Regions from separate parts of the Homo sapiens genome. Here region 2 is linked to region 1. Evidence: fine-mapped expression QTL. A gene starts in region 1. The other region holds a variant in brackets. All regions are shown on one strand. Distances are between the middles of the regions. Region 1 holds the start of AREL1 (apoptosis resistant E3 ubiquitin protein ligase 1). Region 2 overlaps YLPM1 (YLP motif containing 1).

Region 1 (4,397 bases):
GCAGAAAAAGTTTACACCCAAATCAACAGAAGAAATCACCCTGCGATTGAGCATCCCAGGACCTGAAAACTTAATGTTTTGAGGTTTATGAACACGTTCAAGTTCCAGTGCAACTATGTTAAAATAAAATTGGGCTGGTGCCAGGCACGGTGGCTCACGCCTGTAATCCCAGCACTTTGGGAGGCCAAGGTGGGCGGATCACCTGAGGTCGGGAGTTCAAGACCAGTCTGACCAACATGGAGAAACCCCGTCTCTACTAAAAATATAAAATCAGCCAGGCGTGTTGGCGCACGCCTGTAATCCCAGCTACTCAGGAGGCTGAGGCAGGAGAATCGCTTAAACCTGGGAGGTGGAGGTTGCAGTGAGCCGAGATTGCGCCATTGCACTCCAGCCTGGGTAACAAGAGCGAAACTAACTCCGTCTCAAAAAAAAAAAAAAAAAATTGGGGCTTGGCACAGTGGCTCACGTCTGTAATCCCAGAACTTTGGGAGGCCGAGGTGGGCAGATCACCTGAGGTCAGGAGTTTGAGACCAGCCTTGCCAACATGGTGAAACCCATCTCTATTAAAAATACAAAAATTAGCAAGGTATGGTGGCACACACATGCCTGCAGTCCCAGCTACTCGGGAGGCTGAGGCAGGAGAATTGCTTGAACCTGGGAGGGGGAGGTTGCTGTGAGCCGAGATTGCGCCACTGCACTCCAACCTGGGCAGCAGAGGGAGGCTCTGTCTCAAAAATAAAATAAAATAAAATAAAATAAAATTGGCATAAAATTCCAACCCTGCCACACATCCTCAAGTTGGAAGACACACAATGGTAACAACAGAAAACACTCTGAGTAGTCTGGTTTACACTCTTCTAGGGACCTCGCATGTTAACTATGAATAAACATAAGTCCTGATAACATCCCAATAAAAGAGTGCTACTATGATTATCTCCATTTTACAGATAAAGAAACTGAGATGCAGATAGATTAACTCACCCAATGTCATGGCGAGTTATAAGGCAGAGCAAGGATTTTAACCCCATCAGTCAGACTCCAAAGTTCGTGTTAAACAATAAACGTGTTTTCATCATAAGGGTTATACAATGGTCACCTTCTTTTTTAAACCTGATAACATATTTTACTTCCAACTCTAGGATAGCATCATGCAATAAGAAAAGTATGACAGAGGTACCCATTCCGTTCCCAGCTTGATCAGTAGCTGGAGAATGGAAGACAAAGTGCAAAAAAAAAAAAAAAAAAAAAAAAAAAAAGAAAAAAAAAGAAAGAAAGAAAGAAAGAAAAAGAAAAAAAGAAATACAAGTACAGACTTTGGAATCACGAGACTCAAACAGACCCCTGAACAAAGTCTGGGGCTCAATTTCCCCATATGTAAAATAAAAGAATTTATGTTATTGAGAAGGTCAAAGAAGGTAATATGAATAAAGTGACAAGTACAGTATACAGGATGGGGGTTTTCATTTAAAGTTTACAGACACCCAGAGGGTCCACGGATGGGCTTCAGAGTCCACCAATCTCATTAAGTGTATTACAAACTGTATGTGTGCCCATTTTTTAAAGAATTGTTCCTGGCTTTCCACAAACTTTCAAGAAATAAGTTATCTCCAAAAAGTTAAGAACCACTGGAATACATAGCAGGTACTCAAAGAAAAAAGCTACCTTTCGCTCCTTGTTCTCACAAATTCTCCCTTTTTACTTAAAGATGACACACCAAGGCTTCACAATAAATGTGCATTGTATCTCACCATTTTCTTGGCTTGGGTAAGTAGTAACATATGCAAGCTTATGCCCCAATTCTCTAGCGATAGTCTAGGCCCTCAAACACTGCTTCATTTCTCTCTTCACCGAGAGGAGTACACGGTATATACTCGAGAACAATCATCCACCTAGCTGCACAAAGCACCATATCGGCTAGGAAAACCAAATAGGAACCACAGCCTCAGGGCTGGACCATAGACACCGGATACCCCAACGCTACAGGGTGAGGAGAATGTGTTCCCCCAAACTACTGGGCAAACCAGGAGTCTGAACCCCCCTACCCTTTTCCTCCCTCTCTCTCTGGAACTCTGGTAAAGGCAGGTCTTCTGGGCTCTGCCTAAGGCTGGAGAGAAACGTTACCCGAGCCGGGGGTTGCAGCGCGACGAAGTTCCACCTCCGCTGTCCTGGGAAGGGGCGGCAGCACTCAGCAGAAGACGGGCTCCCCACTCTCCCACCAACAGACCCCAGAGTTGGTCTCCACCCGGCCTGGGAACCGGCTCGGGGGATTGCCCTTTCCCCAAGGAGTTTCCGCTTCCGGGCTATCCTTTGCCGGAAGCAGTATGTGAATGACGTAGAAGTATTGCGCCGTTGGTGATTACGGAAGAACCAGGAGTTTGGCGTGACCATGGTGAGAGAAGACGGTCCAAGAAGGGACGTTATCAGGCCACTTTTTGGGTGGAGAAGGAGGTAGTCAGACCGTGGCCAAATTTCCTTCACATTATCCTAGCATATTTTCATTCTGGTCTTAGCTCTTAAACTTCTCCAAGCGGTGACTGTTATGCTTTACAGAGTGGGGAAGAGGGTCTGGGTTATTTGAGGCAAGAAGGGAAGGCAATAGACAAGAGAAAAGAAGAGACTTTAAAAGATGCCGTGTGTTTCCAACTTTTTTAATTCTAAAATTTCTGTTTCAAGGGGAAGCAAAAGAAAACAAGGAAGTATGCGACCATGAAGCGAATGCTTAGTCTCAGAGATCAGAGGCTGTGAGTGTCTGGAATCAACTGCCCAGGGATATTCTAATAAGAGTCTAGAGAGGATAAGTAGTAAAAATGTTTGTTGTTATTATTTTGTTTTTTGCTTATTATCGTGTCTTAGATTTATATAGCATGAGATAGCCAGTGTTTAACAGTAATTTAGCTGCTGAGCGATCACACTGGGAAAGGCGATGGGAATTAAACATTTCTTAAGTGTTCACTTTTTCTACCGTTATATGCTTTGTCTGCCATATCGCATTTAAACCTCATGTCAGTTCGGTGAAGTCCGTATAGTTCTCTTTATGTTTTTACCATTACACTACTACATTCCCCTGGGGTGGGGCGAGGGGAGTGTTTCTTGTTGAAAGATGGCAAGGTTAGAGACCTTGTTTGTCTGGCGTTTCCAGTGCCTGGTACTCAAATATTTTTGTCAGAGAAAATGGGAAAACTCCAAGATATCTCCATTTTATAAGTCTTACTAATATAAGAATCCAAATCACTGTGGAAGAAGAAAGTGAAGTGAAATTCCCTAGTATGAAGAGGATCAAAGCGGTGTCCCTGCTTAAGTGTAGAATAAGCATAGCTATTAAATAAAGACTGATCTTCACTGAGTTTAAGAGTCTCAGAAAGCCGGGCGCAGTGGCTCACGCCTGTAATCCCAGCACTTTGGGAGGCTGAGGCGGGTGGATCACCTGAGGTGAGGAGTTCAAAACCAGCCTGGCCAACACGGTGAAACCCTGTCTCCACTAAAAATACAAAAAAGAGTCTCAGAATAAGAGAATAGTCGTTAAAACCTTCAGAATTATTATTCTCAGCCTTTAGTGTGGATGTATTGTGTAATTTTTAGGAATGACACTCCATTAATAATAATTTCTTTCTAGTTAAGGGTTAAGTTCTGTATATGCGTTTTTACATTTTAGCCCTTTATAAGAAGCATATGGGGTAATACTTTTCCCCCAAAAGTTAAAGCATCTGAATCTTCAGAAGATAACTGTCACCCTTTTACCCATTGCTTGGAAGTGGATTGTGATCCTTGATGTGAGAGATTCTGACTAAAAAATAAATATAGTATAATCAGCTTTTATTTACTCATTAACAATTCTTATGCATTATTGGCATTACTGGTTAATTCTGATACTTCCAGGTACTGTGCTTTGCACTAGAGTTATTTGCTCAGAAAGAGTATGCTGATATTAACATGAGGATATCACAAAGTAGGATTTCTTCAGTAGACCAAAAAAAAAAAAAAATGGAACTTTAGATTTTTGAGATTTTAATTGCTGTGGTTTTTCTTCTCCCTTGGATTTAATTTACCTTTTTCTTCCTAGTAAAGAAAAGGATAGATTAAAACCTAAAAAGAAAGAAAAGAAGGATCCCAGCGCATTAAAGGAAAGAGAAGTGTGAGTAATCAAACGTTTGAAGTTTTCCTTTAAAACCATAGACCTCTTAGAAATCCAGGCTTTCCCTGAGCTGGTTTGCTAACTTATTTGTTAGTAAGTCTAGCACAACTATGTAGATGAAAGTCATATCGATGAGCATATATCAATTCTAGTGGTTTGAAGGTTTTGGGATTTTATGGAGCAGTAAAATTTCCCCTAAAATCCTGGAGATATTATCTAGGATTATTAACTTTTTCTTTGCCAGGGATCTTTTAAGAGACATAAG
Region 2 (4,397 bases), 59 kb after region 1:
GTGAGACTCCGACTCAAAAAAAAAAAAAACCTAGCCAGGCATGGTGTTGCATGCCTGTAGTGCCGGCTACTTGCGGGTGGCTGAGGTGGGAGGATTGTTTAAGCCCAGGAGTTCTCGTGCCACTGCACTCTAGCCTGGGCAACAGAGTGAGACCTAAAAAAAAAAAAAATGAGTAGGCCAGGTGCAGTGGCTGATGCCTGTAATCTCAGCACTTTGGGAGGCCAAGGCAGGCGGATCACTTGAAGTCAGGAGTTCAAGACCAGCCTGGCCAACATGGTGAAATTCTGTCTCTACTACAAATACAAAAAATTAGCTGGGTGTGGTGGTGCACGCTTTTAATCTCAGCTACTTGGGAGGCTGAGGTGGGAGGATCACTTGAACCCAGGAGGCAGAGGTTGCAGTGAGCCAAGATTGCCCCACTGCTCTCTAGCCTGGGCGACAGAGTGGGACTCCATCTCAGTTAAAAAAAAAGAAAAAGAGTAGAAATTAACCAGAAGTTAGAATTCAAAGAATTAAGTTCAATAAGGCTCACTGAAAGCTCAGGGTGAGGATGGTAGGTATGAACTAGATCAGGGAAGGCCTGTAAGGACTTCATTCTAAGGGCAGTTGGAAGCCATTGAAGGATTTTACATAGGTGAATGTGACAGATTGGCATTTTTGAAAGCTCACTCTGCTTGCAGTGTGGAGAGCAGAATTAAAAGGAGCAAGAGTGATTTAGAGAGAATAGTTATTGAAGTAATCCAGGCAAGAGATAATAGTGGTTTAGACTTTGATGGTATTAGTTGAGATGGAGAGAAGTGGGAAGAGTGGAGAAATATTTAGCTGCTAGAATTCACTTTGAGGTTGAGTAGTTATGGAGAGGGAGGCATCAAGAATGATTCTTAGGTTTCTGGGCTGGGCCGTAGGGTGGATGGTGGTCAAATTTACTAAAACAGAAAAACCTAAAGGAGGAGGAGGAAGAACATTTCTGGGGGTGAGGAGAAAATCATGAGTTAGGTTTCAGACATACTGAGTTTGGGGTTCTTGAGACATAGATTCCAAATGGAGATGTCCACTTGGAAGTTAGATATAGCTCTGGAGTCTAGATGTAAGATCTGGGAGACATAGATTTATAAGTCATCAGCATAAAAATGGTATTTGAAGACACAGAAATAGATGAAGCCTCTCAAGGAATGTGTGTAGAGTAAGAACTGAGGTTAAAGGACATTAAGCCTAGCTCCACAAATAGCAGTATCTAAGGGAACCAATGAAAGAATGGCCAAATAGGTATTCATATTAGGTTGGTGCAAAAGTAATTGCAGTTTTTGCTATTACTTTTAATGGCAAAACCACAGTTACTTTGGCACCAGTGTGATAGGTGGAAAATCAAGATAGTGGATAGTGCGTTGCCATGAACGTCAAGGAACAGACTCTAGGAGGAGGGAGTCGTCAGCTGTGTGAAGTACTGCTGAGACGTCAAGCAAGATAAAGACTGCGAGTTATCTTTTGCACCTACTGACATGTAGATTATTGTTGACCTTGGCAGGAGCAGTTTCATAGTGACTGAAGCCATATTGCATTGATTTGAGGAGTGATGGAAGGTGAGGAAATGGGGATGGTGAGTACAGACAACTCTTTCAAGAAGTTTGACTGAAGGAGAGAGAGAATGAGGGAAGGAGCTGGAGGAATAGATGAAGTAAATGAGCATTTAAAATAAAAATAGGTGGGGACTAAGCTTATCTGGTGACCCTGATTCTTACAGTAGAATGTGAATCTCAAAAATATTTAAGCCTATTTTAAATAAATTTCTAAAATGGAAACCCAATTCATTATTTTACCAGGTGTCCTCCCTGCCCCCTGCTTTAGAATATAAGACATAGAACATTGTCTTATAGGCATTTATGATAACCTGGATAGGGAAGGTAATCTTCTAAAATTAATCTTTAAAACATTACACACAAACACTCACCTCCTTTATAGTTCTCCACTTGGAAAATCATTTAGTATCTAGTTCATTACTAGCAGCAGTGGTCAGTAAGTGCTTCCTGAGTAAATTAAAATCAACATCTTTCTTTTTTTTTTTTTTTTCTCAGAGAGATGGGATCTTGCCATGTTGCCCAGGCTGGTCTGAATTCCTGGGCTCAAGCGATATTCGTGCCTCGGCAGCATCTTTCTTAATAACAGTATTTGTGACAAATAGTTCTATATTCTTAATTTTTTTTTTTTTTTTGAGATGGAGTCTCGCTCTCACCCAGGCTGAAGTGCAGTGGCGCGAGGATCTGGGCTCACTGCAACCTCCGCCTCCCAGGTTCAAGCGATTCTCCTGCCTCAGCCTCCCGAGTAGCTGGGATTACAGGCATGTGCCACCACACCCAGCTAA[G/T]TTTTGTATTTTTAGTAGAGACAGGGTTTCACCATGTTGGTCAGGCTGGTCTCGAACTCCTCACCTTGTGATCCGCCCGCCTTGGCCTCCCAAAGTGCTGGGATTACAGATGTGAGCCACCGCACCCAGCCAATAGTTCTACATTCTTTATGTTTGAAATCCCTTCATTCAATCTCGTTTTAAATGTGACCTATATTATGATTTCCCTCTACCTATAAAACAACATCCCATATGAAATGGAGTTATCTGATATGATGGGACATTCAGAAGAGCTGGCATCATTAGCAAGTTCAGGCATTTTTTTTCTTTCTAAAATAGGGATGATCACACTTCTCTTAGGGTCAGTAAGGACATTTGTGAGTGATATCATTATTATTTATTTGCAGAGCTTCAAAAATGTGCTGAAGCCTACCATAGGATTGAATTAGATCTGGTTACTACTTATAGGGTTCATATTAAATAGAAATTGACCTACAAGGCGGCCGGGCACGGTGGCTCACGCCTGTAATCCCAGCACTTTGGGAGGCTGAGGTGGGCGGATCACAAGGTCAGGAGATCGAGACCATCCTGGCTAACATGGTGAAACCCCGTCTCTACTAAAAAATATAAAAAATTAGCCGGGCGTGGTGGCGGGCGCCTGTAGTCCCAACTACTCAGGAGGCTGAGGCAGGAGAATGGCGTGAACTCGGGAGGCGGAGCTTGCAGTGAGCCGAGATCGCGCCACTGCGCTCCAGCCTGGGCGACAGAGCGAGACTCCATCTCAAGAAAAAAAAAAGAGAAATTGACCTACAAGGCATACTGTCAGTGAATCAACAAGTACTTCAGCCCTTAACAAGTTCTTAACCCTGGTCTGGATCTAAGACAAAGCATGAGAATAGGTGATGAAGAAGCTGATAAAGAATCTGGACCTGTACAGTTTTCATTCTGTACAGTCTTCATATCTGTAGCATTGGCTTAGTTTGTGAAAGATAGTTTGCATCTTTGTATCTTTTAATAATGCTTTCAAAGCAACTTTAAAAAAGGAAACTTTTAACTTCTACTTGAAAGAGAATGTACTAATTTTTTTAAAACTGAAGGATAAGTCTGTTGATGTTTTCAGTATTAAAATAATGGAAGGAAGTGTTTTAATGCTACATTATTATTATTATTGGCTTTGGCTTTCATGGTCAGTGTGCTGTTTTCTTTCTTTTTTTTTTTTTTTTTTTTTTTTTTTGAGACAGAGTCTTTCTCTGTTGCCCAGGCTGGAGTGCAATGGCACGATCTCGGCTCACTGCAACCTCCGCCTCCCAGGTTCAGGGGATTCTCCTGCCTCACCCTCCGGAGTAGCTGAGATTATAGGTGTGTGCCACCACACCCTACTAATTTTTGTATTTTTAGTAGAGGCGAGGTTTCACCGTGTTGGCCAGGCTGGTCTCGAACTCCTGACCTCAGGTGACCTGCCCGCCTAGACCTCCCAAAGTACTGGGATTACAGGCATGAGCCACTGTGCCTGGCCAAGTGTGCTGTTTTCTTACGTTGAATAGTAAAAGTACAGATACTCTTTGACTTACAGTGGGGTTACATCTCAATAAACCCATTGTAAGTTGAGGATAATGTAAGTTGAACATTTAATACACCTAGCCTACTGAATACCATAGTTTAGCCTAGCTATTAAATGTGCTCAGAAAGTTTACATTAGGCAAAGTCATCTGGCCACACAGTACACAGTAGAGTATTGGTTTTTTTCTTGTTTTGTTTTGTTTTCTTTGAGATGGAGTCAGTGAGTGGTGCGATCTTGGCTCACTGCAACCTCCACCTCCTGGGTTCAAGCGAGTCTCCCGTCTCAGCCTCCCAAGTAGCTGGGATTACAGGCACCTGCGACCATGGCCCAGCTAATTTTTTTGTATTTTTTTTGTTTTGAGACGGAGTCTCGCTCTGTCGCCCAGGCTGGAGTGCAGTGGCGTGATCTCGGCTCACTGCAACCTCCGCCTCCTGGGTTCATGCCATTCTCCTGCCTCAGCCTCCCAAGTAGCTGGGACTACAGGTGCCTGCCACCATG

The links. PIP is the estimated chance that this variant, and not a neighbour inherited with it, causes the effect. A credible set is the group of variants that fine-mapping cannot tell apart.
Region 2: its variant is the best candidate, but not a certain one, in a credible set for the expression of AREL1 in whole blood (TOPMed, PIP 0.71).

What each region holds. Positions count from the first base shown.
Region 1 is chr14:74,710,812-74,715,208 of GRCh38, forward strand. AREL1 (apoptosis resistant E3 ubiquitin protein ligase 1) reads right to left here and starts at 2,269. Exons shown (of 20, transcript NM_001039479.2): 1 at 2,122-2,269. FCF1 (FCF1 rRNA-processing protein) reads left to right here and starts at 2,333. Exons shown (of 8, transcript NM_015962.5): 1 at 2,333-2,389; 2 at 2,674-2,741; 3 at 4,061-4,132. The coding sequence starts at 2,387. RefSeq lists an enhancer at 2,167-2,446.
Region 2 is chr14:74,770,167-74,774,563 of GRCh38, forward strand. The region is part of intron 1 of YLPM1 (YLP motif containing 1); the gene reads left to right. Among named protein-coding and RNA genes, the nearest start is that of YLPM1, 9.0 kb to the left of the region's middle. The variant G/T (reference allele first, on the strand shown) is at 2,360.